7 linked regions of the Homo sapiens genome follow. The protein of the gene in region 5 purifies or fractionates together with the protein of the main gene of each other region. This does not show direct contact. Each region holds a gene or a part of one and is shown on either strand. Other genes may lie near its edges.

Region 1 (3,500 bases), on a different chromosome or scaffold from region 5:
GACCTTGCTCAGAGGAAGCTGTATCGAGATGTGATGCTGGAGAACTTCAGGAACCTGCTCTCAGTGGGTGAGGACAGGCACCCTCTGTAACAGAACGTCAGGCCCCAGAGGTGGCTTTGTATCCTAGGGTACAAAGTTTCAAGTCTTAATTAGTAACTTGAACCTATGGTTCAAGTTTGAGTGTGCAGTAAGAACCTAAATTTCTGGTAAACTTTACCTTGATATTACCTAGAATGTGTTGGGATTAAGCATGTAAGTTTGCCTGTTTGCAGGACATCAAGCATTCCACAGGGATACTTTCCACTTCCTAAGGGAAGAAAAGATTTGGATGATGAAGACAGCAATCCAAAGGGAAGGGAATTCAGGTAAGAATCAAGCAACTGTGAATCCCTGTATGTCTCTTCCACCTGTTTCACTTCTGTCCATGCTCAAATCCATTGCCCTGGCCTAAATGGCCAAACCTCTTTCTTGGATTATTGACAACCATCTTACACCTGGTGGCCCTGCCACCCGCCTTCACATCCTGACATCTGTTCTCATAGCAGCCAAAGTGATCCTTAGGAAATGTAAGTCAGATTGCCATTCCTCAGCTCAAAAGCCTGTTTGGCTTATTTTTATTAAAGTTACAACCTCTTTAATTGACTTTTAGAGACCCTGTGATCTGCTCTTCATCCCCTCCCTGCCACCTCTCTAACTACATCTCCTGTCCTCTCCTTCTTGCTCTGTCTTTACCAGCCACTTTATTCTCCCTGCTGTTTCTCTGTCCTCCCAAGGGCACTGTGTTGCCTTTTGCTGGTACCCAGTGACCACAGACTGAGCAGACTGAGAGACAAACATTTATTATTTTTGTGTTCTTTAGGGATGAAGTCTGATACATCTCACTGGGCAATTATCAAGTTGTCTGTAGGGCTTCATGTTTTCTGGATGCTCTTGGGGAGAAGCCTTTACTTTAGTTTATCAGTGTCTAGGCACTGTCCATACTCCTTGGCTCTTGCTTCCCTTCCTCCATCTTCAAAGGCAGCAACTTGCATCCCCATAGTCATGCTCCCTCTGCCACTCTTCTTATGCCTTCCTCTTTCACCTTTTGGGTCCCTTGTAATTGTTTTGATCACTCCTGGATAATCCAGGATGATCTTTCTGTTCTCTGGTTAACTGACTAGCAACCTTAATTGCATCTACAACCTCTGTTCCCCTGCTGTATAACAACGTGATCATAAGTCCTGGGGACTGGATGTGGACATCTTTTAGGAACCATTATTCTGTCTCTACAGAAGCTTCTGTCTCAGCCCTTACTTGCTCATCTCAGTCACTGGGATACTCTGTCACCTCAAAACCTTCTGGCATCTCCTTCAGTTATTCAAGTTTCTTTTCAGTTTTAAAGTCATGAGAGAAGCCATCCTAAACCACTCTCTTTATAATTCCATTCTATTTTGATTCTTCTTGTGCTCTCTTGTACCAAGTCTCACATACTTCTGTTTATCTGTCACTTCTACATGCTGGACTATAATGTCTAAGGAATTTTAACTCTTCGTGGCTGTATTTTCAGTGCCTAGAATGGTCCTGGTACATGGCAGGTTTCCAAATTTTTGTTAACCTGATATATGAGCTAATGAATGGGGTGACTTCACTGTCTCCTGAAATTATGGAGAGAACTAATAAGTGAAACACAAACTACGGTGAAAGAGAGATATTGCAGAACATGTTTTTTGTCTTCCAATGGCCATGTATTTAATTACAATGTTCTTAGATTCCGTTATTTGATTGCCTTGTGTGTTTACGGTGGACCCACATCCCATGGAAACTTCTAAGCATTCTATTTATTACCATACTGAGCTATATGCCTTCCATATGACTTATCCTGGAGCTTTTCATAGGAAGCATATTCATTTCTGGAAAGAAATCATTTTTGAATGAACATTCTGATGTCTACTAGTGAGACAGCTCTTCTACAAGGGGAAAAAATTCTCCATTTTGTGATGTGTCAGATAATAACCAGCTTCCCAGCTAGCTTTCCTTTGAGAGATTTACCCATCTGCAGCCCATTTGCCTTTCCAAAGTCTGCATGCACGTCACTGACCCCAGGTTTCTTCTTCTCCTGGGTGGGGAAGAATGAGGAAGAGAGCAACACAATTCATGCAGCTAAACATTGCCTATATTTCTGGTCATCTTTGTTCAAAAATATGTATATTTCTGCACCTTCATTGTATACAGATTTAATTGTTAAAAACATAAAAGAATACAGATTTTACAACATAATTTTTCCTTTATTTTTTAGAGACCTAGTGCTCTATTTTCAACTTTATAACTTGGAAGGAATCAGGAAACTGCCCTCTCAAAATACTGACATCCTGAAAGAGACTCTCTCTTCTCCCCAAAAACCTCTTAAGTAACAGTGTGTTAAATATATCCATATTCCAGCGTGTACCATTGGGTACATATTTACCTATTACTGTTTTTCCAAGATTCAACCTTGGAAGTTAACTTTCCATTTGACTGACTTAATTTAGGACTTGGTAATATCCTGACCAAAGTTGTCAACATTTTTATGATTGTGAGTCATAGTAAGAAACACATCTTTCACCATAACCAGGACAAACATTTTTCATGCATGTAGATGTCTATGGGTTACTTCAGTAGGCATTTCATGAAATGATACCTTTCTTGCTTGTCATGAAGATGTGATCATTTCTTTTCTAGTTCTTTTTTTCTAAATGCTCATTAGAAGGTTTTAAATTTATTTTATAGCTCACTTTTTGTCTATATTCTTCCATTTGGAAATAAGTATAAAGGAGTATTTATCTATATCATATATTTTCTGCCCTCTTTTTTCTTCTTTTTTTATTTTTTTGAGACAGGGTCTCACTCTGTCACCCATGCTGGAGAGCATTGGCATGATCTCAGCTCACAGCAACCTCTGCCTCCTGAGTTCACATGATTCTCATACCTCGGCCTCCCACGTAGCTGGGATTATAGGTGTGCACCACCACACCTGGCTAATTTTTGTATTTTTAGTAGAGACAGGGTTTCACCATGTTAATCAGGCTGGTCACCAACTCCTGGGCTCAAGCAATCTGCCCGCCTTGGCCTCTCAAAGTGCTGAGATTACAGACATGAGCCACTGTGCCTAGCCTCTGGTCTTTTTTATTTTAATGAGAGTCTAATATCCCCACATGGAACCAACCCAGGGCATGACCCCTCAGGCATTCTTTTTATCCCAAGTGTTCTCACCACCTTTCATTGTCTCATCAGGAGCATCACCCTTTCTTTACCCCTGTCAGGTCCAACCTTTCAGATTCCCATCAAAACTGGTTGTCTGTTTCTTACCTATCTCAGTTAACCAAATTATTGTTCACATCTACAGAAAAATAAAATTAAAGATACATGTTATGCCAAATTCTTGTGTAGGAATATTATGAATATGTAGATATAAACACTCCTAGGCCTTTGATATTATTGTGAAGAGTTTAACTGGCTGCACAGTTTAGAGCAAGAGTTTACAG
Region 2 (3,500 bases), on a different chromosome or scaffold from region 5:
CCTGGCTTGCCCTATTCTTTCCATAGGATAAATTCATAAGAATGAGTTTCCTGGCTTAAAGGATATTCAGAACGTAAAGTTCGAATGTGTTGCTAAGCCGTCCCCTTGCAGATGAGGCTCAGATCTTAGACAGAGAGTGCAGGAATGTGCCTGTCCCTACAGACTCACTGGGTGCTATCATATTTCAGATCTTTGCAGATCCAATGGTGGAAAAATGAGAACTCATGTTCTTAACTACTTTCCTCTGCCACTACCATCAAACACATATTTTGAGTTTTGTGGCTCTCCCTCTTGAAGCCTTGCAAGTTTTTGTTGACTTCCTTTCTCTAAGAGGAGGATCATCAGTTCTCTTGCCCTCCCTCCCCTATTTCCTCTTCTTCATCCTCTTAATATGTTTTTTGATTGGATTTCTAAAGTCTTGTCTATAGAGGTATACATACAATAAAATTCACCCTTTTGGAGAGGAGTTTTTGCATTTTGACAGATGTGTACAGTCATGTATACATGTATATTACAATCAAAATATAGAACATTGCTGTCCCCTGAAAAGTTGTCTCAGGCCCTTTTGTAGTTAATATCTTTTCCCTACTCCCTGGCAACTACTGATTTGTTCTCTGATCCAATAGTTTTGACTTTTCTAGATTCCACTTCCATGTTACATTCCCTCCAGAAATGAATGAGGCTTCCAGCTGTTCTATATCCTCATAATACTTTGTATTACCATTTTAATCCTAGTCATTCTAGAAGGTGTGTAGTGATATCTGATTGTGGTTTTTATATGCATTTCTCTAATGACTAATGATATTGAGTGTTTCTCATGTGCTTATTTGCATCTATACATTTTTTTTTTTAACATGTAGTTCCAGCTCTGTCACCCAGGCTGAAATGCAGTGGCATGATCTCAGCTCACTGCAGCCTCCTCCTCCTGGGTTGAAGCAATTCTCCTGCCTTAGACTCTTGAGCAGCTAGGATTACAGGCACATGCTACCACACCTGGCTAATTGTTGTATTTTTAGTAGAGACAGGGGTTTCACCATGTTGGCCAGGCTGGTTTCAAACTCCTGACCTTGGGTGACCCACCCGCCTCGGCCTCCCAAAGTGCTGGGATTACAGGCATGAGCCACCGCGCCCGGCCCATCTATATACATCTTCATTGGTATAGTGATTGTTCAAATCTTTTCCTATATTTATTGGGTTGTTTGTCCTCTTATTAGTTGTGTAAGAGTTCTTTATGTAGTCCAGATACAATTTTTTAAAAACATCAGATATGTGTTTGTAAATATTTTCTCCCAGTCTGTGGCTTATCTTCTCGTTTTGCTAACCATGACTTTCAAAAAGCAGAAGTTTTAATTTTGATGAAATTCAACTTATCAGTTTTTTGTTGTTGTTGTTGCCATGGATCACGTTTTTGGTGTTGTTTCTAAGAAATCTTTGCATAACCTAAGTCAGAAGGATTTTCTTTTTTGTTTTTTCCAAGGAGTTTTACAGGCATATCTTGGAGATATTGTGGGTTTGGTTTTAGACCACCACAGTAAAGCAAATATGGTAATAAAGTGAGTCACACAAATTGTTTGGTTTCCCAGTGCATATAAAAGTGATGCTTACGGCCAGGCACGGTGGCTCATGTCTGTAATCCCAGCACTTTGGGAGGCCGAGGCGGGCGGATCATGAGGTCAGGAGATCGAGACCATCCTGGCCAACATGGTGAAACCCCATCTCTACTAAAAATACAAAAATTAGCCGAGCATGGTGGTGTGTGCCTGTAATCCCATCTACTTGGGAGGCTGAGGCAGGAGAATCACTTGAACCTGTGAGGTGGAGGCGGAGGTTGCAGTGAGCTGAGATCGCACCACTGCATTCCAGCCTGGGCAACAGAGCGAGACTGTCTCACACATGAAAAAAGTTATGTTTACATTATACTGTAGTCTATTTAGTGTACAAAAGCATTATGTCTAAAAATGTACATACCTTAGTTAAAGGACACTTTATTGCTAAAAAGTACTAGCAATCTATCTGAGCCTTCAACAAATCACACGCTTTTTTGCTGGTGGAAAGTCTTGCCTTGATGCTGATCAAGGTGGTGGTGGTTGAAGGTTGGGGTGGCTGGCTGTTTCTTAAGACAGCAGTGAAGTTTGCCACATCAGTTGACTCTTCCTTTCATAAGATGTTTTTCTGTAGCATGTGATGCTGTTTGATAGTATTTTACTCACGGTAGAGCTTCATTCAAAATTGGAGTCCGTCCTCTCAAACCCTGCAGGGGCTTTATCCACTACATTTATTTAATATTCTAAATCTTTTGTTGTCATTTCCACAGTGTTCACCATATCTTCACCAGGAGTAGATTCCATTTCAAAAAACCACTCATTGTTCATCTATGAGAAGCGACTCCCCATCCATTCAAGTTTGATCATGAGACTGCAGCAATTCAGTCACATCTTCAGGATCCACTACTAATTCTAGTTCTCTTGCTATTCTAATCACATCTGTAATTACTTTCCCCACTGAAGTTTTGAACCCCTCAAAGTCGTCCATGAAGCATGGAATCAACCTCTTCCAAACTCCTGTTAATGTTGATATTTTGACTTCTTCCCATGAATCACAATCACATGTTCTTGCAGCATCTAGAAGGGTGAATCTTTTCCAGATTTTCAATTTACTTTGCCCTGATCCATCAGAGAAATCACTATCTATGACAGCTATAGCCTTATGAAATTTGTTTCCTAAATAATAAGACTTGAAGGTCGAAATGACTCCTTGATCCATGGGCTGCAGAATGGATGTTGTGTTAGCAGCACGAGAACAACATTGATCTCCTTGTGCATCTCCATCAGAGCTCTTGGGTGACTAGGTACATTGTCGATGAGCAGAAATATTTTGAAATAAATCTTTTTTTTTTTTTGAGTAGTAGGTCTTAACAGTGGGTTTAAAATATTCAGGAAACTATGCTATAAATAGATTGCTATCATCCAGGCTTTGTTATTCCATTTGTAGAGCACAGGCAGAATAGATTTAGCATAACTCTTAAGAGACCTAGGATTTTCAGGATGTTAAATGAGTATTGGCTTCCATTGAAAGTCACCAGCTGCATTACCCGCTAACAAGGGAGTTAGCCTGTCCTTTGAAGCTTTGAAACCAGGCATTGATTTCTTCTCTCTGGCTATGAAACTCTTAGATGGCATCCGCTTCCAATATGAGGCTCTTTCATCTACACTGAAATTCTGTTGTTTAATGTGGCCACCCTCATGCATGATGTTAGCTAGTTCTTGTGGATAACTTGCTTCTCCATCAGCACTTGCTGTTTCACTTTGTACTGCTATGTCATGGAGATGGCTTTTTTCCTGAAACCTCATGAACCAACCTCTGCTAGCTTCCACGTTTTTTCAGCTTCCTCACCCACCTTGGCCTTCATAGAATTGAAGAGTTAGGGCCTTGCTCTGAACTAGGCTTTGGCTTAAGGGAACGTTGGCCGGGGGCTGGTTTGATCTTCTATCCAGATCACT
Region 3 (3,500 bases), on a different chromosome or scaffold from region 5:
TGAACCCAGGAGACGGATTGCAGTGAGCTGAGATCGAGCCATTGCACTCCAGCCTGGGCAACATGAGCGAAATTCTGTCTCAAAATAAGTAAATAAATAAGCAAATAAATAAATAAGATGTCTTTTTATTAACTCTAAGTGCTGGAACTGGATTAGCATTTATAACCACAAATGTTAGTGAAATATAAACTTTTTCTCCTTTGATACAATGAGAAGGAAACAGGAGGGGTTACTTTGCATTATTTGATGTATGTCGGGAAGCCCGGCCATTAGGCAACATATTTTTAAACCACCTTAATTTCCTATATCTCTGATTAATCTGGAAAAAGAAACAGGTTGAAGGTGATCTGTAGGGGGTTACCCGTATCTGTTAGAATTGTTTGTTCAAATGGATTTTTAATTTCTAGTAATTTATTGTTGTTTGCTCCTCTCTCACGCCTAACCCAGATACCAAAAATCTAATTTTCTGATGACATCATTATATCTCTATAGCAGCTGGCTTTGAGAGAGGATTCTAAGTTCAGTGAGATCAGCAGCAAACGAACTTAGAAGAAACAGAAATCTTGTAAATATTCTTTTTTTAAGAGCATAAAATTTGGAAATGATTTTAAAGCAGTATAATTTAGAAATTATATATATATATATATATATATATATATATATATAAAATTCAGAATTATTCCGTGGATTTTCTGTGTCTTTAAAATGCAACACATAATGATATTAGTGTTTTCTGAGGTTCTGGATGGGGGCCGAGGAGAGCGTAGCTAAGCATGGCCTATGTCAGTTCTTCTCTGCAAGGATCAACTCTTAAGAGGATGGCTCCTCTGCCCTCCACCACCTTTTCTTTCCACTTCCTTTGGCATTATTCTTGGTCTGTTTTCACCTCTGTTCTCTGCCTGCCTCATCTCTTTTATTGAGCGCTTCCCAGTCTTAGACCTCTAGTCAGAAACCAATGGGAAAGATTTTGTTACTGTCCAGCACCCTACAGTGACTGGGATGGTGGTGGGAATTCCATGATGACATAGATATCTGTTGTTTCCTGAGAGACATCATGTGTTGTTACACAATAAAAAGGTTTTTCACTGAAAAAAATGTTTAAATCTGTCTCTAGTGCCTCACTTCAAGAATTCAAGAAAACTCACTAATAAACATGTTTAATGCTAATTTAAGATGCGACCATTTAGAAGGGATCTTCAACTATCTGAATAATGTTGGAGCAACATGTGCCATTGTTTGGTTTGGCGAATCCTATAATGAATCCTGTAATATGTAAAGATGGCATTGCGTGCACCCATTCTTAATGAGATTATATTATAATGGGAGTATTTCCATCCTTCACTCCTACTCAAAGCCTGTTCTTTCTCTTCCTTTTGCAATTCCCTGAAAGCTTTCTGCCTGCTGTTAGGTTATTGCTGCCACCTGACGTCTCAAAATAAAATTGCCGTGGGTTTGCTTTTCCAAAAGATTCGCACTATTCTGCATTTTATGGAAATAACTATTTGAGAGCAACAGTTTTTTCTCTATACTCCTAAATAAGAGCATTCTGAAGTGATTACTTATGGTGGGGAGATTATGGGTATCATTCATTCCACAAGCAAAAGGTGGAACTAATAGTACAGGAGGGAATGTAGGAGTCCTAATCCCTAGAATAGGACAAATCGCCATTGTGACCTTGGTGTGTACTTCACCTCATAAAATTGGACTCAGTGCTCTTAACAGCCTTATTCCAGCTTTAACATTGTTTTATTGTGTGTACTTTTATTTATGAAAACATAGCCCTTCTCCGTGATACTATTTACTTTTTTGGACTAAAGTTCTCAGTGTTGAACAGGTTTTCTCTCTTTTTTTTAACAGATACATAATATTTCTACATATTTATAGGATACATGTGATATTTTATTACATGCATAGGATGTGTAATGATCATGTCAGGGTGGCTGAAGTATCTGTCACTTTGAGTATCATTTCTATGTGTTGGGAACATTAAAAGACCTCTCTTCTAGCCATTTTGAAATATACAATACATTGTTGTTAACTATAGTCACCCTACTCTGCTATTGAACATTAGAACTTATTCCTTCTATCTAACTATATGTACCCACTAACCATCCTCTCTTCATCCCTCACCCACCCACACACACCTGCCCCACCTTCTGGTATCTATTATTCTACTCTCTACCTCCATGAGACCAACTTTTTTAGCTCCTACATATGAATGAGAACATGCAATATTTGTCTTTCTGTGCCTGGCTTATCTCACTTAACACAGTGACCTCCAGTTCCATCCATGTTGCTATAAATTACAGGATTTTATTCTTTTCATGGCCAAATAGTATTTTATTGTGTATATATACTAAATTTTTCTTTATCTATTTATTTGTTGATGGACACTTAAGTCAATTCCTTATCTTTGCTATTGTGAATGATGCTGCAATAAACACGGGGGTGCAGGTATCTATTTGATATACTGATTTATTTTCCTTTGGATAAATACTAGTAGTGGGATTGTTGGATCATGTGATAGTTCTATTTTTAATATTTTGAGAAACCTCCATACTGTTTTCCACAGTGGCTATACTAATTTACATTCCCACCAACAGTGGATAAGAATTCTGCTTTCTCTGCGTCCTTGCCAGCATCTGTTATTTTTTGGCTTTTTAATAACAGCTACTCTAACTGGGGTAAGATGATATCTCATTGTCATTTTGATTCAGATTTCTGTGATGATTGGTGATGAGCATTTTTTCATTTATCTGCTGGCCATTTGTATGTCTTCTTTTGAGAAATATCTATCCATATCCTCAGCCCACTTTTTAATAAGTTTTCTTGTTTTTTAAACTATTCAGTTGTTTGAGTTCTTTGTATATTCTAGATATTAGTCTCTTGTCAGATGGATAGTTTGCAAATATATTCTTCCATTCAACAGGTAGTCTCTTCACTCTGTTGATTATTTCCTTTGCTGTGCAGATGCTTTTTGGTTGAATATGTTTTCTTATAGAGCTATGTTAAATAGATGTTCACATTTTCATTGTGTGAATAAATAGCTTTGATAGCTTTCCTTTGCTCAATTATCAGAGACACAGCTGAAGACTCTCTATTGTTTGTTTTTGTTTTTGTTTGAGACAGAGTCTCCCTCTGTCACCCATGCTGGAGTGCAGTGGCGTGATCTCGGCTCACTGCAACCTTCGCCTCCTGGGTTCAAGCAATTCTCCTACCTCAGCCTCCCGAGTAGCTGGGACTACAGGCACGTGCCATCGTGCCTGGCTAATTTTTTGTATTTTTAGTAGAGATGGGGTTTCACCGTGTTAGCCAGGATGATCTAGATCTCCTGACCTCGTGATCCGCCTGCCTCAGTCTCCCAAAGTGCTGGGATTACAGGCGTGAGCCACCACGCCTGGCAACTCTCTATTGTTAATACAGTCATAACCAGAATAACACTTCTCTGCTTGCTTAGTTATTCAGGGACTTCCTTTGCTTAACTTTGTACTTATAGTACA
Region 4 (3,500 bases), 9.0 Mb from region 5:
TAGCTGCCCCGGGGGTGAATGCTGGAGGGTTCTGGCGCTGGCAGCACAGCCAGCCACGAGTGTGTGTGTGTGGGAGGGTCAGGCATCAAGGGGAGTGTGGGACCTCTGGGAGTCCCCCATCCCATCCCACAGTGTCAAGCTGGTAGATTTCCAGGGAGAGTGGGGAGTGGTGGGGAGGACTGAGACAAAGAGGAGCAAGTCAATTCCTCAAGGTTTTGGATTAAAACCCAGGAGTCCCACTGTCTCGATGAAATGTCCTTCTGGATGACTCAGGAGTAGAGATGAAAACTTCAACTTCTCTCAGAGGCTTCATTCTGCCAGCCTGCCTAGCCTTGGGTTTCTGCTCCTTTGAAATGCCTTCTCTCTCTACTATGTTCTCTCCTCCTCTGCCCTGCCTGCCCATCTCTGCTCCTTTCCTTTTAATAACCTCCCAGTTAAGCGAATCGAATGGGAAGAAGCAGTTAAAAGCAACTCATGGCTTGACAATGCTGGGTAATGGAGCGAGCAAGGCCCCGGGCTGTTCCTGGGAGAATTCAGGAAGGAGGAGGAAAAATAATAATAATAAAAAAAACTCAGCTAAGCTGATTACAAGGACAAAGTTAATTTAGAAATCAGCTCTGTTGGGTGGGAGTGGGGGGTGGAGAGTACGGAACTGGACACAAGAGGTTGGGAGATTCGATTTGGGGGAAGTGTGCTTTATATAAACTGCCTTTGTTCCTGGAAATCATAATCCTTGGGAGGGACCAGGGTTCACTCCTTCGGATTCCTCGGCTCCTTCCATCCGGAGCAGGGGGTACAATCGGGGATTGTCCAGAGCTTGGATATCTCGTGGCACCACATTCCAGAGGCCCCGCAGCCCCTGAGCCTCACATCTGTGGCCCCCTCCCTGCCCCTGCTCCCTGCTCCACTCCCCCTCACTGGACGGTTAGGCTTCAGCATTTTTCACATACCTCTCTCACAACCTTTATCTTATAAAATTGTCAATATGTGTTTATACATCCATCTCCCACACCATACTGAGAGTGCCTCAAGAACAGGGACTAAATCTTACCTACCTTTTCATTCCCAGGCCTAGGCCCAGCACAGCCATTTAAAAAAACAATGCTCATAAGTTGAACACATGCTCTCACCCCCCCTGGTGGGACCCTCTTCAAAGGACTCCATTTGAAAAACCAGAGCTCACTTCCTAGCAGAGGTTTTAAGAATCTTTAGGCTCAGCTCCTAAATGCACATGTATCTAAGGCCACAGACCAGTGGAAATGGCCCAGAATTGACCCTGAAGGGACTAAACCCGGATGGGCCCTCTGATGGAACCAGATGGCTCCCCTTGACTCTGGGCAGTGTAGACATGGCCCAAGCTTGGGGGGGACAGGTAACAAAGAGCCTGGCCTCAGAGTCAGGCTGCAGAGCTCTCCTCGCAGTTACTGCCGTTGAACTCTGCCTCCAGGCATCTTTATCTTATACTGAAGTATTCTCAGAGGAAAAGATTTCCTCATCCTTCCGAAGTCTCTCTGGCTCAAGTCACAGATCTGAGACTTCCCAAGGCAGAGCTGGTATTTCTCTAAGGTTTTCTGCTCACTTCTGCCTGGCCAAACCTTGGTTATCTGTTTTTTTCATGTTTTTAATTGGAGGGGTTATAAATTTCCATAGTGTCTCCAGTAGAAGAGGTGTTTAAGAGGAGGGGAGGCTTTGGTGAGAAGTGAGATGGGGATTATACCTGTTTTTAACACACCCTTTGTCTGCTTAAAAAACAGAAATCCATTGCTCCCCAGTTCTTACAGGGGAGTCTTTGCAAGAAGTCTTTGGCCTGGCTTTTCCAGGCCTCCTCTGGTCTGTCCCCATTCTGCCGTTCTGGATCATCTCATCTGTTTCTCCCAAACCAACCCAAATCCTCAGTCCAACTGGCCTCAGTGTCCGCCACACATCCCACCAGCAACATCTTGGTTCCGGAAGTCTGGCCCATCTGGTAAGGCTCTCCCTCTTCCTGCCACATCCATGTCCTGTCCATCCTTGGGCCCCACTTCCTCCACGGAGCCCTTCCTGGTCACTTCAGCCCACAGCAAAGTCCCTTCTCTGGACTCTCTAGCTCTGACCTGCACACTGCTATCACGGCACCAATGACTCCACACCTTGCACCACCAGCAGTCTTCATGTGTGTATATCTTAGTTTCTTAAAAGGGAAGGACCACCTGCTGTCATATTTTTTGGTCCACATAATGCCTACCAGTATGTTTTGCATATAATAATGTACAGTTGATGATTAAAAAAATAATTCTCCTGATTTGGTGAAAGAGAGAACTGAGGCCTACTGAGATTAAGTAATTTGCACTGAAATCACAAAGTGAGACCTTCAAGGGCAGAGATCTAGTACATTATTCACTTTGCAACACTGGAGCCCAGCACACAGTAAGCACACAATTCTCTTCCGCTGAATGAAGGAACAAAAGTCCTTCCTCTTTCCACACATCTTTCAGTGAAGATATATTCCTCAGACTGCCTCAGAAGGAAAGAAGGGGCAAAAAGAAAAGGCATCCAATGGCCTAGTCGATTCTGAAGCGGACCTAGGATGGGACAGCTTCCTGGGATAAACCTGCTGGGCACAGAGTACACCTCCAGACACTCGGGTTCCTGTTATCCCTTCCCTGCCTCAAAACCCAAGACCCACAGCATTCTGGGTGAGTCTCCCATCACCTTCCAGAGCCAGATTGCAAAAGGAATGAAGCGGCAGCATTCTCTCCTGGGAAACTAATGGAATTTGCTAGAGAGTTCTGGAGATTTCTACCCCTGGATTTAAGACCCTTAATCCTGAGGAGGTTGACTGGCTGCAAGGCTCATTTATTTCAATACGATGCCTATTTTGTTAAATGGGCTCAAGGAGGGCAGAGAGGGATGAGGACTGCAGCCCCTGGAGACAACAGAGGTTAATAAAAGTGGCTGAATAAATTAAATATGGAGGGAAGGACAAGCTGGGAGCTTGGAGTCAGCTGATAGAGGGAGAGTAAGTGGGATAGAAAGAAAAAACAAAAGTGTCATACTTCAGTGATGTCTGCGAGCTACAGCAGCTTTTATCCTGGATGCTCCAAGAACTTAATTAGGTTCGCATTGTCTGACAATCAGACGTAGGAAGGTATAAGAGCTGGAGCTACAGAATGGAGAGGGACCAGTGTTACAGAATGAGGAACCCCAAGCTTCTTTCTCAACTTTCATAACTTCACAGTTTGTGCATCTATCAGAGAGGATGCAGGGCATGCAAGGCAAGGCAAAAAGTAGTGCCTTTAAAGACACAGGAGGGCTGCTATGGCTGGAAGAAAAATGACTCACAAAAATGTACTACTGTTGCACACTAGTGCTCTGGTGACTGAAAAGGCTTGGGTAAAGATGAGAGATATCTGTCCAGATGTGTATGGGGATGGGGATAAGAAGTGGGTGCATGTATAGCTGCACTATGAAGGCATGTGTGAATACATATGCATATGCATATGCATGCAGTGAGATTGCAT
Region 5 (3,983 bases):
CCAGCCTGGCACCACTCTGTTTTCAGATGCTACTTGAGACCTTTCTGCTATGTCTCTTTCCTCTGCCCAGAATGCCCTCGCCTGCCCCCTTTCCACCAGGGATCCTTGAATGGCTCAAATCTTGTGCTTTCTGCAAATGCCAGCTCAGATGTTACCCCTCCTTTATCGTGGTGCCCCCTCCCCACCCACGACTAACTTAGTCCTTCCTCTATGTTCCCAAGGCACTTTCTCTATGTCTCCATTATTGCACTTGCCCCGTTTTACTAGGAATAAGTATCATGTCTTTAATGGTCTGACCTTCCTCCCTTTCCTCGACCCAAGATGAGGCTCCTAAGGGCAGGAAGTCTATCTCATTCCACTTTGTAACCTTAGTTCTTAGCACCTAGTAGAGGCTTCATAAATATATTTCTTAAGCAAATCATACATTTCTCAGTTCTCTCTCAACACATACATTTTGAGACACAAGACAAATCCGTCTGACAAATAGGAATAATCCATGTGAATGCGTGCTGGAATCTATAAAGTGTTGGATGGATTTAAGCCGTTATAATCATTTATCTCATTCTGGTTTTACATATTTTCTGTTAAAGGGCCGGATGCCCTTATTCTACCTCATATTTTAACAGGAAAAAGTAATGACGCGAGATTCCCGCCTACCTTTTTCAATTCTGCGGAGCCTCTTGCCTGGTTCCTTGCACTGTCAAAAAGGAAACCAGACGGAGGGGCGGGGGTACCGCAGAAGCGAACATTCTAGCCTAGAGGACTTGCTAGTTAAGTCCTGTAAGAAGTTACGCCAAGTCCCCGCCGTCCCCCACCCTCGCCGCTGTCACTCTCTCCCCGTTCAGGTTGGCTGTGGCTGCCCGCAGACACAGGCTCCCCTGCTCGAGTCCCCAGCCAGCGTTCTCGCCCGGGTTCCCGAGCGCGGGCGTCCCTGGGAGAAGCCGCGATGGTCGCTCCCCGCTCGGCGCGGCCCGCGGGGCGGCCTCCCCCGCGCCTCTCGCTGCCTGCCACCCAGAGACCCCCTCTCTCCGCGTGGCCTCAATCACTCCACGCTGACCTTTGGGCCGCCGGGGGCCAGCACGTGACCGAGAAACTTTGGCAGTCGCGGCAGCGGGCGGCGGGGCGGAGGCGCGGGAGGCGGTGCGGCGGCCGAGCTCCCCCGCGCGGCGGGCTCTGCGGCGGGGAGACGCTCGCCCCGTGCCGCGCTGCCTGGGCATGCGGATGCGCCGCCGAGCGCTGCGCGGACCCCGGAAGCCCGCGGCAGCGCGCGCTCAGCCGGCGGCGCGATCCAGCCCCCGGCCCCGCCTGCGCGGCCGGCCCGGCGGGCGCTGCGCCCAGGGACGCCCGGTGCCCGCCGCTCCGCCGCCGCCCGCTGCCGCGGGGTGACAGCGATCCTTCTGTTCCAGCCATTTCCCACTTTCCTCACTCCGTAATTCGGCTGGGAAGTTGGGGAAGATGGATAGGGTCTTGCTGAGGTGGATTTCTCTCTTCTGGCTAACAGGTAAGAGTCCTTTTCAACAGAAACGAATAACTTTGTATATTCCTGTAGTGGTTCTGTTCTCACCGCGCCCCCCGCCCCCCCATTTTCCTCCTTACTGACCATGTTTAAAGCTGCTTAGCGGTCTGGTGGAAAGTGGGGGAGGGGGCAACGTGTGTGTTTGTGTATGTGTTTGTGTGTGTGTGTGTGAGAGAGAGAGAGAGAGAATGATGGGGGCGGCGGGGGAGAAGCCCAATGACAAGTGAGACGCATCTAGATGCAGGTGTTTGACTCATTGGCGCTGAGGTTGTTCTTTCGAATGCATTTCCCCTCCATAAAACGGTTCTCCTTCGGTCTTATCCTGAGTTTGTAATGCTGTGAGTCTTGTGAAAAGCCTGGCTGGAATAAAGGAAGCTCAGAGGGAGCTGATTAATTAAATGAACTGGTTTTCTGGAGGTGGAGGCTAGAGGACTGTCTCCTTAATTTCTTCCCTAGAGAAGGAGGGGGACCCAGGGCATTCTCTCTGTGGCTCTCTGGAGGGTGCAAGGAACTGGAGGTTGGGAAGAAGATGGGGATGGAACCTTCACTGGTTGTGGAGTTTAGAGCCTGGCTCTCTCTTACTTGGTATCATTTGGGGAGTGGTCCCAAATGATAATTAGAAAGCAGAAGAGCCTTTCTAATAGGTGCACTCTCCGCTCCCTAAAAGATAATTTGCAGAGAGATTTAGAGGCATTGGGCTTCTCCCCAGCATCAAAGTCACTGGTCTAGCTGGGTCCTCTGTGCCCTCCCCTCCTTTTTGGTGAACTTTCTCCCCATTCTGCTGGGGTCAGTAGATGCTCTTGTTCTTAACCTATTTCCCCACATGAGGATTCCGATTCCCATAGGGATACAGGGCCTTGGGGTGGCCAGCCCTGAGAGATTCACAAAGCAGCCCTGCTGAAGGGAGTAGGATGGGGGTGAGGAATGTCTGGATAGCTTGGACTGGGTCAGAGGCAACCATTCAAATCAAGGTGGAGGCAGAATGATGGAAGAAATGGAAAAAGGGATCAGAAAGGTGAGGACAGGATGGGGGTGGAAGGCAGGAGAGAAAAGGGACAATAGTACCACATGAGAAGTTTTGTCACCTCTAGCATCACCAGCCAGAAGATCTGGACAAAATCAAGGCACTAGGCAAAGGGGAACAAGCTTAAAATAGCTAAAACAAGTCATGTAAAGGGGGTAAAATACATTTAGCAAGAAAAGGCAAATACCCCATTTCCCTTAGCTTCAGAATAAGATTCTTCATTGCCTAAATATTTTTCCCATTTCAAATGAAATGCCCCTAACATTGCCGTTGCCCCACTGCTGGGTTTAGGCTGGGGGAGGCATCCTCAGCAGAGTTAGCCTCTTCTTTTGGCTGCTTTGAGTTCATCCCTCCCACATTATTCAGATATGAATCATCTCTAATTTCAGGGTTTGGCTGATCCATGCCACCCCGCTCCCCTGGCCTCCCAGTGCCTTCCACTCCCACCCTCACTGATTCTTCACATCCTTAATCTGCCTCTACTCTCGGTTATCAATATTCTCAGGGCACTTAGTCCTTGAGCCTGTATCACAACAGCACTGAAGTCAGCCAGGCATCGGGGGGGGGGGGGAGGGGTCCCTGAGTCAGAGGTGCTCTTTACAGACACGCTGGGGTCTGCCTAAAAGAAGTACTCTGGGGGTTTGCAGGGAGTGAGAGAAGAAGGGAAACATAGAGCTCTCTTTAGATGGCTCACAGCTTTTTATGAAATGGAATCATATCACTGGAGGGTACTACAGGAACTGTAGTTCAGCCCTCTCAGTTTATAGAGATGGAGTCCTAGAGAGGCAATATGCACATAGCACGTTCATGATTGATTAGGGACTAGATTCCAGTTCTCTCAAACTCCAGACCAGTCTCATTTGCCCTCTCCTAAGCTGCCTCTCTGGGCTTTTTGCTGGAGGGCTTTTTGTTTTATTTTTGTTTTGAGGGAGGTGATGGCTTTGTCTGTGCCTTCTGCCACCTGCACCTGGAGAGGCTGTTCTGCTTGGAATCAGGCAACAGGTTAGTTATCAGGACCAGCTCAGCTGTCAGATGGCTGGGGATTCTTTGCTCCAAAAGTGAGACTGACTCCTGGGATCCCATTGATCATCCTCTGCTCCCTGCTCCTGCTTTCTCCTCATCCCATCACTGCTGTCAGAGGTGTGGACAGACAAGCTGCCTCTCAGCCTCAGCAAAGTAGAGGAGCAAACAATGGCGGCTGGGGAGGGGAGGGAGGAGACAGAAGCAGACAAGGAGGAGATGAATTCAGACTCATTCTTCACAGAGAACCATGAGACGAAAGGTGAGAAATTTTAGTCCAGCCCAATCAATGAATTCTCTTTTGAGGGGGTGGTAGAAAGGAAGGGAGACAGGGAAGAACAGATTAAAAATGAGACAGAGAGCCAGGAAAAAAACCACATTCATTCTTCCTCTCCCTCCCTTTCTCTCCCCACCATCTCTCTC
Region 6 (4,261 bases), on a different chromosome or scaffold from region 5:
TTTCTTGAATTGCCAAAATTTGCATACATGCTTACAAAAATAATGCCTGTTGAATTTGCTAGATATGTAAAGGTTTGGAGCAAATCAGGTGTATTAAATTTATTAATATTGTTTGAAATGTCTAAGGCAATAATTCCCAAACTTCGTTGAGGGAGAAGGAAAGCTTTTAAAATCCCATTGCCCAGGTGGCATCCCATACTGTTACTGGGAATTATGCATTGGGATGGATCCTTTAACCGAGGAGATTATTATAGCCGGAGCTCTGAACCAGCAATCTCAGTTCTTGTGATAGTGAGCAAAGAACTACAAACTAACACCAAAATGCAAGCTTAAAGCAAAGTTTATTGAAGCACAATAATACACTCTGAGGGACAGCGGGCTTATTTCTGCGAAGTGAACTCAGCACTTCTTTACAGAGCTCAAGGTGCTTTTATGGGGTTTGTGGGGAGGAGTTGAGGTTTGGGCTGTATCTGAGTGACAGGATGATGTTATTTGATTGAAGTGTATAGCTATACAATCTAAAATTAAACTGTGCATGGTCTTACCTATAATTTGTTAAGAAAAGCCTCCCAGGGATGGGGGGGCAAAACTGTATGTAAATTCTATTATAATGATGGCATGATGAACTTGGGGTGAACTTGAAGACAGGCTTTTGTGTTGTTGGGCATGTGCCACCTTAGGGAATTTCCACCTGTACCCTCCTTTCTCTTTCTCCAGGATATTTTGGCCACAGACTTTATCATAAACTCCATCCCTTAGGGTGGCATTAGGGTAGTCTTGGGCCTGAATTTAGGTGGGCCAGTGGCTGTCTTAGTGACAGCCTTTCCGCTCTCTTCTGTCATCCCCTCCCAACTGCTAATGTCTAACTACCTAACAATTACCCATTAAATCAGTGTGTCTGGGGTTAGGAGCAGGCCTCAATATGTTTAATCATTCTCCAGATAATCCCAATACTGTAAAGTTTGTGAAACACTTGTCAGATAATTCAATTATGAAGGCTGTGGAAGGTGTTTCAGTAGGATCTAATTGGTTAATGTTATGACTTAATTAATTTGAATCAAAAAACAAAATGAAAAAGCTTTATATTTCTAAGTCAAATAAGACATAAGTTGGTCTAAGGTTGAGATAAAATTTTTAAATGTATGATTGAATTTTGAAAATCATAAATATTTAAATATCTAAAGTTCAGATCAGAACATTGCGAAGCTACTTTCCCCAATCAACAACACCCCTTCAGGATTTAAAAACCAAGGGGGACACTGGATCACCTAGTGTTTCACAAGCAGGTACCTTCTGCTGTAGGAGAGAGAGAACTAAAGTTCTGAAAGACCTGTTGCTTTTCACCAGGAAGTTTTACTGGGCATCTCCTGAGCCTAGGCAATAGCTGTAGGGTGACTTCTGGAGCCATCCCCGTTTCCCCGCCCCCCAAAAGAAGCGGAGATTTAACGGGGACGTGCGGCCAGAGCTGGGGAAATGGGCCCGCGAGCCAGGCCGGCGCTTCTCCTCCTGATGCTTTTGCAGACCGCGGTCCTGCAGGGGCGCTTGCTGCGTGAGTCCGAGGGCTGCGGGCGAACTAGGGGCGCGGCGGGGGTGGAAAAATCGAAACTAGCTTTTTCTTTGCGCTTGGGAGTTTGCTAACTTTGGAGGACCTGCTCAACCCTATCCGCAAGCCCCTCTCCCTACTTTCTGCGTCCAGACCCCGTGAGGGAGTGCCTACCACTGAACTGCAGATAGGGGTCCCTCGCCCCAGGACCTGCCCCCTCCCCCGGCTGTCCCGGCTCTGCGGAGTGACTTTTGGAACCGCCCACTCCCTTCCCCCAACTAGAATGCTTTTAAATAAATCTCGTAGTTCCTCACTTGAGCTGAGCTAAGCCTGGGGCTCCTTGAACCTGGAACTCGGGTTTATTTCCAATGTCAGCTGTGCAGTTTTTTCCCCAGTCATCTCCAAACAGGAAGTTCTTCCCTGAGTGCTTGCCGAGAAGGCTGAGCAAACCCACAGCAGGATCCGCACGGGGTTTCCACCTCAGAACGAATGCGTTGGGCGGTGGGGGCGCGAAAGAGTGGCGTTGGGGATCTGAATTCTTCACCATTCCACCCACTTTTGGTGAGACCTGGGGTGGAGGTCTCTAGGGTGGGAGGCTCCTGAGAGAGGCCTACCTCGGGCCTTTCCCCACTCTTGGCAATTGTTCTTTTGCCTGGAAAATTAAGTATATGTTAGTTTTGAACGTTTGAACTGAACAATTCTCTTTTCGGCTAGGCTTTATTGATTTGCAATGTGCTGTGTAATTAAGAGGCCTCTCTACAAAGTACTGATAATGAACATGTAAGCAATGCACTCACTTCTAAGTTACATTCATATCTGATCTTATTTGATTTTCACTAGGCATAGGGAGGTAGGAGCTAATAATACGTTTATTTTACTAGAAGTTAACTGGAATTCAGATTATATAACTCTTTTCAGGTTACAAAGAACATAAATAATCTGGTTTTCTGATGTTATTTCAAGTACTACAGCTGCTTCTAATCTTAGTTGACAGTGATTTTGCCCTGTAGTGTAGCACAGTGTTCTGTGGGTCACACGCCGGCCTCAGCACAGCACTTTGAGTTTTGGTACTACGTGTATCCACATTTTACACATGACAAGAATGAGGCATGGCACGGCCTGCTTCCTGGCAAATTTATTCAATGGTACACTGGGCTTTGGTGGCAGAGCTCATGTCTCCACTTCATAGCTATGATTCTTAAACATCACACTGCATTAGAGGTTGAATAATAAAATTTCATGTTGAGCAGAAATATTCATTGTTTACAAGTGTAAATGAGTCCCAGCCATGTGTTGCACTGTTCAAGCCCCAAGGGAGAGAGCAGGGAAACAAGTCTTTACCCTTTGATATTTTGCATTCTAGTGGGAGAGATGACAATAAGCAAATGAGCAGAAAGATATACAACATCAGGAAATCATGGGTGTTGTGAGAAGCAGAGAAGTCAGGGCAAGTCACTCTGGGGCTGACACTTGAGCAGAGACATGAAGGAAATAAGAATGATATTGACTGGGAGCAGTATTTCCCAGGCAAACTGAGTGGGCCTGGCAAGTTGGATTAAAAAGCGGGTTTTCTCAGCACTACTCATGTGTGTGTGTGTGGGGGGGGGGGGCGGCGTGGGGGTGGGAAGGGGGACTACCATCTGCATGTAGGATGTCTAGCAGTATCCTGTCCTCCCTACTCACTAGGTGCTAGGAGCACTCCCCCAGTCTTGACAACCAAAAATGTCTCTAAACTTTGCCACATGTCACCTAGTAGACAAACTCCTGGTTAAGAAGCTCGGGTTGAAAAAAATAAACAAGTAGTGCTGGGGAGTAGAGGCCAAGAAGTAGGTAATGGGCTCAGAAGAGGAGCCACAAACAAGGTTGTGCAGGCGCCTGTAGGCTGTGGTGTGAATTCTAGCCAAGGAGTAACAGTGATCTGTCACAGGCTTTTAAAAGATTGCTCTGGCTGCTATGTGGAAAGCAGAATGAAGGGAGCAACAGTAAAAGCAGGGAGCCCAGCCAGGAAGCTGTTACACAGTCCAGGCAAGAGGTAGTGGAGTGGGCTGGGTGGGAACAGAAAAGGGAGTGACAAACCATTGTCTCCTGAATATATTCTGAAGGAAGTTGCTGAAGGATTCTATGTTGTGTGAGAGAAAGAGAAGAATTGGCTGGGTGTAGTAGCTCATGCCAAGGAGGAGGCCAAGGAGAGCAGATTCCTGAGCTCAGGAGTTCAAGACCAGCCTGGGCAACACAGCAAAACCCCTTCTCTACAAAAAATACAAAAATTAGCTGGGTGTGGTGGCATGCACCTGTGATCCTAGCTACTCGGGAGGCTGAGGTGGAGGGTATTGCTTGAGCCCAGGAAGTTGAGGCTGCAGTGAGCCATGACTGTGCCACTGTACTTCAGCCTAGGTGACAGAGCAAGACCCTGTCTCCCCTGACCCCCTGAAAAAGAGAAGAGTTAAAGTTGACTTTGTTCTTTATTTTAATTTTATTGGCCTGAGCAGTGGGGTAATTGGCAATGCCATTTCTGAGATGGTGAAGGCAGAGGAAAGAGCAGTTTGGGGTAAATCAAGGATCTGCATTTGGACATGTTAAGTTTGAGATTCCAGTCAGGCTTCCAAGTGGTGAGGCCACATAGGCAGTTCAGTGTAAGAATTCAGGACCAAGGCTGGGCACGGTGGCTCACTTCTGTAATCCCAGCACTTTGGTGGCTGAGGCAGGTAGATCATTTGA
Region 7 (3,500 bases), on a different chromosome or scaffold from region 5:
GCAACAGAGCGAGACTCCATCTCAAAAAAAAGAAAATGTATTCAAGGAAGGAAATATCAGTAATATCAGTAACTGCCTTGTGCTTTTTAATGATTTGCTTCTTCAGTTGTAGATAATCATGTCATTCTTGCTTGGAGCTATTTTAGGCAGCCTTTACTGACTCCTTCCTTCTACTACATAGTACCAGGAATTGGGAGAGGTGTGGTTTAAGTCATTCTTTTTGTGGTTGGCATATTTAGGGAAAGATTTGGTATAGGAGAAGGTCAAACTAATATTTCAATGATGGTTTTAGACTGTGCATGGCTTTCAATCATCTGAGCAACTTCTACTTCACCATCCCTGGCCCCTAACATATATAACTAGTTGACCAGGATTACTGAGTCACTTGGCCTTGGATTTTTTTTTTTATGCCTCCCAAGTTCCATATGAATACATTTAAAGCAGGGAGTTTAGAGCAGGTGGAAAGTTGGAAGTCTGTTTGATTTTGTCGACCGTAGGAAATATGGATAAAGATACATTTGCTAGAACTAAGGAGAAATAAGAGTAGCTTTAATGCTGTGTAGCTCTCCCTAAGGCCCAAACAGGAGACGCAAACTAATGTGATGATGTAAGAATTTTTCTATTTCTCACACCATCCCTTGCTTCCACTCCAAGCATGGTAGTATCTGGGTATTTAGGTGATTGGTGAAACACACCAATTGAGTAGCCAAAATGAATGTGTCTGAATGACTCCCCATGACATGGTTTCTATACCTTGAGGAGAGACAACATGTTTCTTCAGGAGACAAGAAGTTGCTTTCCCTGTGTGCTCCACTGTCTTAGTCCTTTTTGTGCTGCTATAACAGTGTACCTGAGCCTGGGTAATTCATAAGGACCTGAGATTGATTTCTCACTGTTCTGAAGGTCAGGAAGTCCAAGAGCAAGGCGCCATAGGTTTGGTGTCTCTACTTCCAGGATGGCTCCTTGAACACTACATCCTCTAGGGGGTTGGAGAACGCTGGTACTCATGTGGCAGAAGAATGGAAGGGGCAAGAGAAGGAGAGAGGGCCAACTTGCCTTTTATAACAAGCCTAGTGCCACTCTAACAACCTACTCCTGAAAAAAAACAAAAAACAAACAAACAAACAAAAACAGTATTAATCCATTCATAAGGGTGAAGACCTGATGGTCTAATCACCTCTTAAAGACTCCACCTGTTAACACTGTTACTGTTAAAGCAGCAATTACATTTCAATGTGAGTTTTGGGGGGGATAAACATTCCAGCCATAGCACCCACCCTACCCCTAACTCTCTCTGTTGGGCGCCACCCCAGGAGCTACATCCCTCTTGACCCACCCCCATTTCTCAGCCACCTGCCCTGGCCATCCATCCTTGGATCCCAGGCTACCTGCTGCCCTCCTGGGTGCATGAAAGGAATGTTGGCCAGTACCAACATTTTTTTAAAGTGGCTACTTTGTAAAAGTAGGAACTCTTGGCATACACTAGAGCATGGGCACCACCTGCACCATTCCACGGGTACCTGCCTCTGCCAGATACCCCTGAGGGAAGAGGATGTTCTATAACCAGGCCGACAGGTTAGCATTTGTGAACACAGTTCTGACGTTGTTGGGAGGGTTTGTTTGCCAGAAACATCCCCATGCGCTACTCTTTCAACCAGAGGTCAAGAAGTCCTTTACTTTTGTGTCTTTTTTGTTTGTTTGTTTGAGACGGAGTTTCACTCTTGTTGCCCAGGCTGGAGTGCAATGGCGCAATCTCGGCTTACCACAACCTCTGCCTCCCAGGTTCAAGCAATTCTCCTGCCTCAGCCTCCCGAGTAGCTGGGATCACAGGTGCCCACCACCACGCCTGCTAATTTTTGTACTTTTAGTAGAGACAGGGTTTCACTGTGTTAGTCAGGCTGGTCTTGAACTCCTGACCTCAGGTGATCTGCCCGCTTCGGCCCCCCAAAATGCTGGGATTACAGGTGTGAGCCACCGCGCCCAGCCTTCTTTTGTGTCTTTTAAGCTGCACTCGGAGCACAGGCAAGGTGCTTCCTCAGAGGGAGGTTGCTTAACATGGGGAGACATCCACACAGGAGACCACAGCTGATCCATCCCTTGACTGTCAGCAGCAAGTCCCCCTCTCTGCATTTTCCAGCTCATGACATAGTTTGGAAATAGCCCTGCCCTGGGGTCTGCTCTGTGGTTGTAACAGTGGAGCCCTCCGGTGACATCTGTGGGCCAAGTCATTTCACCATGACCTTTGGCCATGCCACATGCAGTCATCTGAAAGCTGCACCTTCTGGGGTCTGAGGGGTTTCTTGGGTATTTTTTCCTGATTGAGACACATCTGCTGGGCCCCTGAGAGAATGGGGGATACCTGGCGGGGCCAGCATTCTTCACGGAGCTATTCCACGAGCTACTATGAGAACATGGTGACTCAGAGAGGCTCACGTGTCTGCACTAAATTCAGACCTAAAGTAATAAGCAGATTCTTGGGAACTTTTTTTTTAACTGTACTTGATGTCCTTTTTGTTTTTGTTTTAACCAGACCCAAGTTCAGGACCTCTGTGTTTATCACAAGCAGGACTTGTTCCATTTGGGAACGAGGACCTAGAGAACAGCAGCAAAAAGCTGAGCCTTCCCAGGACCTGGAGGAGGGTGTTCTGTGAGCTTCCACAGAGCAGATGCCTTAAAAACGAAGGAGCTGTCTGGAAAAAATCAGGAGAGAGAGAGAGATTGAGATTTGCAGGAAAGCCTTTACTGCCAATGCTCAACAGAAAGTCTGAGTGTTCCACTAAGAAAACTGCTCCCCGAGGGAGAAGTGGGTCCCATCCTCTTGAGTTTGATGAGGGTGGGAATCAGCTTTGTAATTTTTATTTTTTGGCCTGTGGATGGTTCGTAAGCTGGAAAGGGTTTGGGTCCCCAAGAGCTCCCCGATGCACAGCTCTCCTGTGTCCTGTGTGGGGCTATTTAAGGATGAAAGGCCAGGACTGTGAATCCTGATGGTCACAGCTCTCTCAGCTTAAAGCTAGGGGACCCCGCTCGAAGGGGACCCTGAAGTACCCTGCACCCCAATATCTGAAAGTCCTCTGACCTCGCTTGCACCCCCTGGAGCCTCGGCACTCAGTGCCTTTGCTGAAAGTAGCAGCCGCCGCACCAGTAGTGGTGGATCAGAGGTTAGTTTTCCCAGGAGCCTGGCACTATTGGATCAGGTTTCTTTTCAGGAGAAAGAGCAGGGAGACAGGGAGCTAACCCAATCACCCACGTCTATGCTCTTTGGCCTTAGACACAGCTTGGCCAGGTGGGGAGGCGTCCTTCCCTTTGCAGAGCCCAGAGCAGCCCAGGTTCGGGTCTGGCAGTCACTGTGAGCAGTTTTCAAGCCTGTCCCTTTTCTACCCTCTCCTTCTAGAAGGTGCTGGACGAATGCCAGAACCAGCGGGCCTGCCACCTCCTGGTCAATAGCCGTGTTTTTGGACCTGACCTTTGTCCAGGAAGCAGTAAATACCTCCTGGTCTCCT

The links.
Region 1: the proteins of ILDR2 (region 5) and ZNF224 purify together in Homo sapiens (affinity purification with mass spectrometry, with the first as the bait; one study listed by BioGRID). This does not show direct contact.
Region 2: the proteins of ILDR2 (region 5) and ADGRG5 purify together in Homo sapiens (co-immunoprecipitation; one large-scale study listed by IntAct). This does not show direct contact.
Region 3: the proteins of ILDR2 (region 5) and HSD17B12 purify together in Homo sapiens (affinity purification with mass spectrometry, with the first as the bait; one study listed by BioGRID). This does not show direct contact.
Region 4: the proteins of ILDR2 (region 5) and KIRREL1 purify together in Homo sapiens (co-immunoprecipitation; one large-scale study listed by IntAct). This does not show direct contact.
Region 6: the proteins of ILDR2 (region 5) and HFE purify together in Homo sapiens (co-immunoprecipitation; one large-scale study listed by IntAct). This does not show direct contact.
Region 7: the proteins of ILDR2 (region 5) and EVA1C purify together in Homo sapiens (co-immunoprecipitation; one large-scale study listed by IntAct). This does not show direct contact.

What each region holds. Positions count from the first base shown.
Region 1 is NC_000019.10:44,100,861-44,104,360, forward strand, and holds part of ZNF224 (zinc finger protein 224), read left to right. Parts: coding exon 1-67; intron 68-272; coding exon 273-365; intron 366-3,500.
Region 2 is NC_000016.10:57,549,143-57,552,642, forward strand, and holds part of ADGRG5 (adhesion G-protein coupled receptor G5 isoform 1 precursor), read left to right. Parts: intron 1-3,500. UniProt on the Homo sapiens protein: Orphan adhesion G-protein coupled receptor (aGPCR). Ligand binding causes a conformation change that triggers signaling via guanine nucleotide-binding proteins (G proteins) and modulates the activity of downstream effectors, such as adenylate cyclase.
Region 3 is NC_000011.10:43,809,738-43,813,237, forward strand, and holds part of HSD17B12 (very-long-chain 3-oxoacyl-CoA reductase), read left to right. Parts: intron 1-3,500. UniProt on the Homo sapiens protein: Catalyzes the second of the four reactions of the long-chain fatty acids elongation cycle. This endoplasmic reticulum-bound enzymatic process, allows the addition of two carbons to the chain of long- and very long-chain fatty acids/VLCFAs per cycle.
Region 4 is NC_000001.11:158,000,145-158,003,644, reverse strand, and holds part of KIRREL1 (kin of IRRE-like protein 1 isoform 1 precursor), read right to left. Parts: intron 1-3,500. UniProt on the Homo sapiens protein: Required for proper function of the glomerular filtration barrier. It is involved in the maintenance of a stable podocyte architecture with interdigitating foot processes connected by specialized cell-cell junctions, known as the slit diaphragm.
Region 5 is NC_000001.11:166,972,741-166,976,723, reverse strand, and holds the start of ILDR2 (immunoglobulin-like domain-containing receptor 2 isoform 1 precursor), read left to right. Parts: upstream 1-1,183; 5' UTR 1,184-1,455; coding exon 1,456-1,501; exon of another isoform or gene 1,502-3,475; coding exon of another isoform or gene 3,476-3,542; exon of another isoform or gene 3,543-3,731; coding exon of another isoform or gene 3,732-3,822; intron 3,823-3,976; exon of another isoform or gene 3,977-3,983. UniProt on the Homo sapiens protein: May be involved in ER stress pathways with effects on lipid homeostasis and insulin secretion. With ILDR1 and LSR, involved in the maintain of the epithelial barrier function through the recruitment of MARVELD2/tricellulin to tricellular tight junctions.
Region 6 is NC_000006.12:26,085,968-26,090,228, forward strand, and holds the start of HFE (hereditary hemochromatosis protein isoform 1 precursor), read left to right. Parts: upstream 1-1,461; 5' UTR 1,462-1,473; coding exon 1,474-1,549; exon of another isoform or gene 1,550-2,195; intron 2,196-4,261. UniProt on the Homo sapiens protein: Binds to transferrin receptor (TFR) and reduces its affinity for iron-loaded transferrin.
Region 7 is NC_000021.9:32,454,206-32,457,705, forward strand, and holds part of EVA1C (protein eva-1 homolog C isoform 1 precursor), read left to right. Parts: exon of another isoform or gene 1-3,384; intron 3,385-3,391; coding exon 3,392-3,500. UniProt on the Homo sapiens protein: Binds heparin.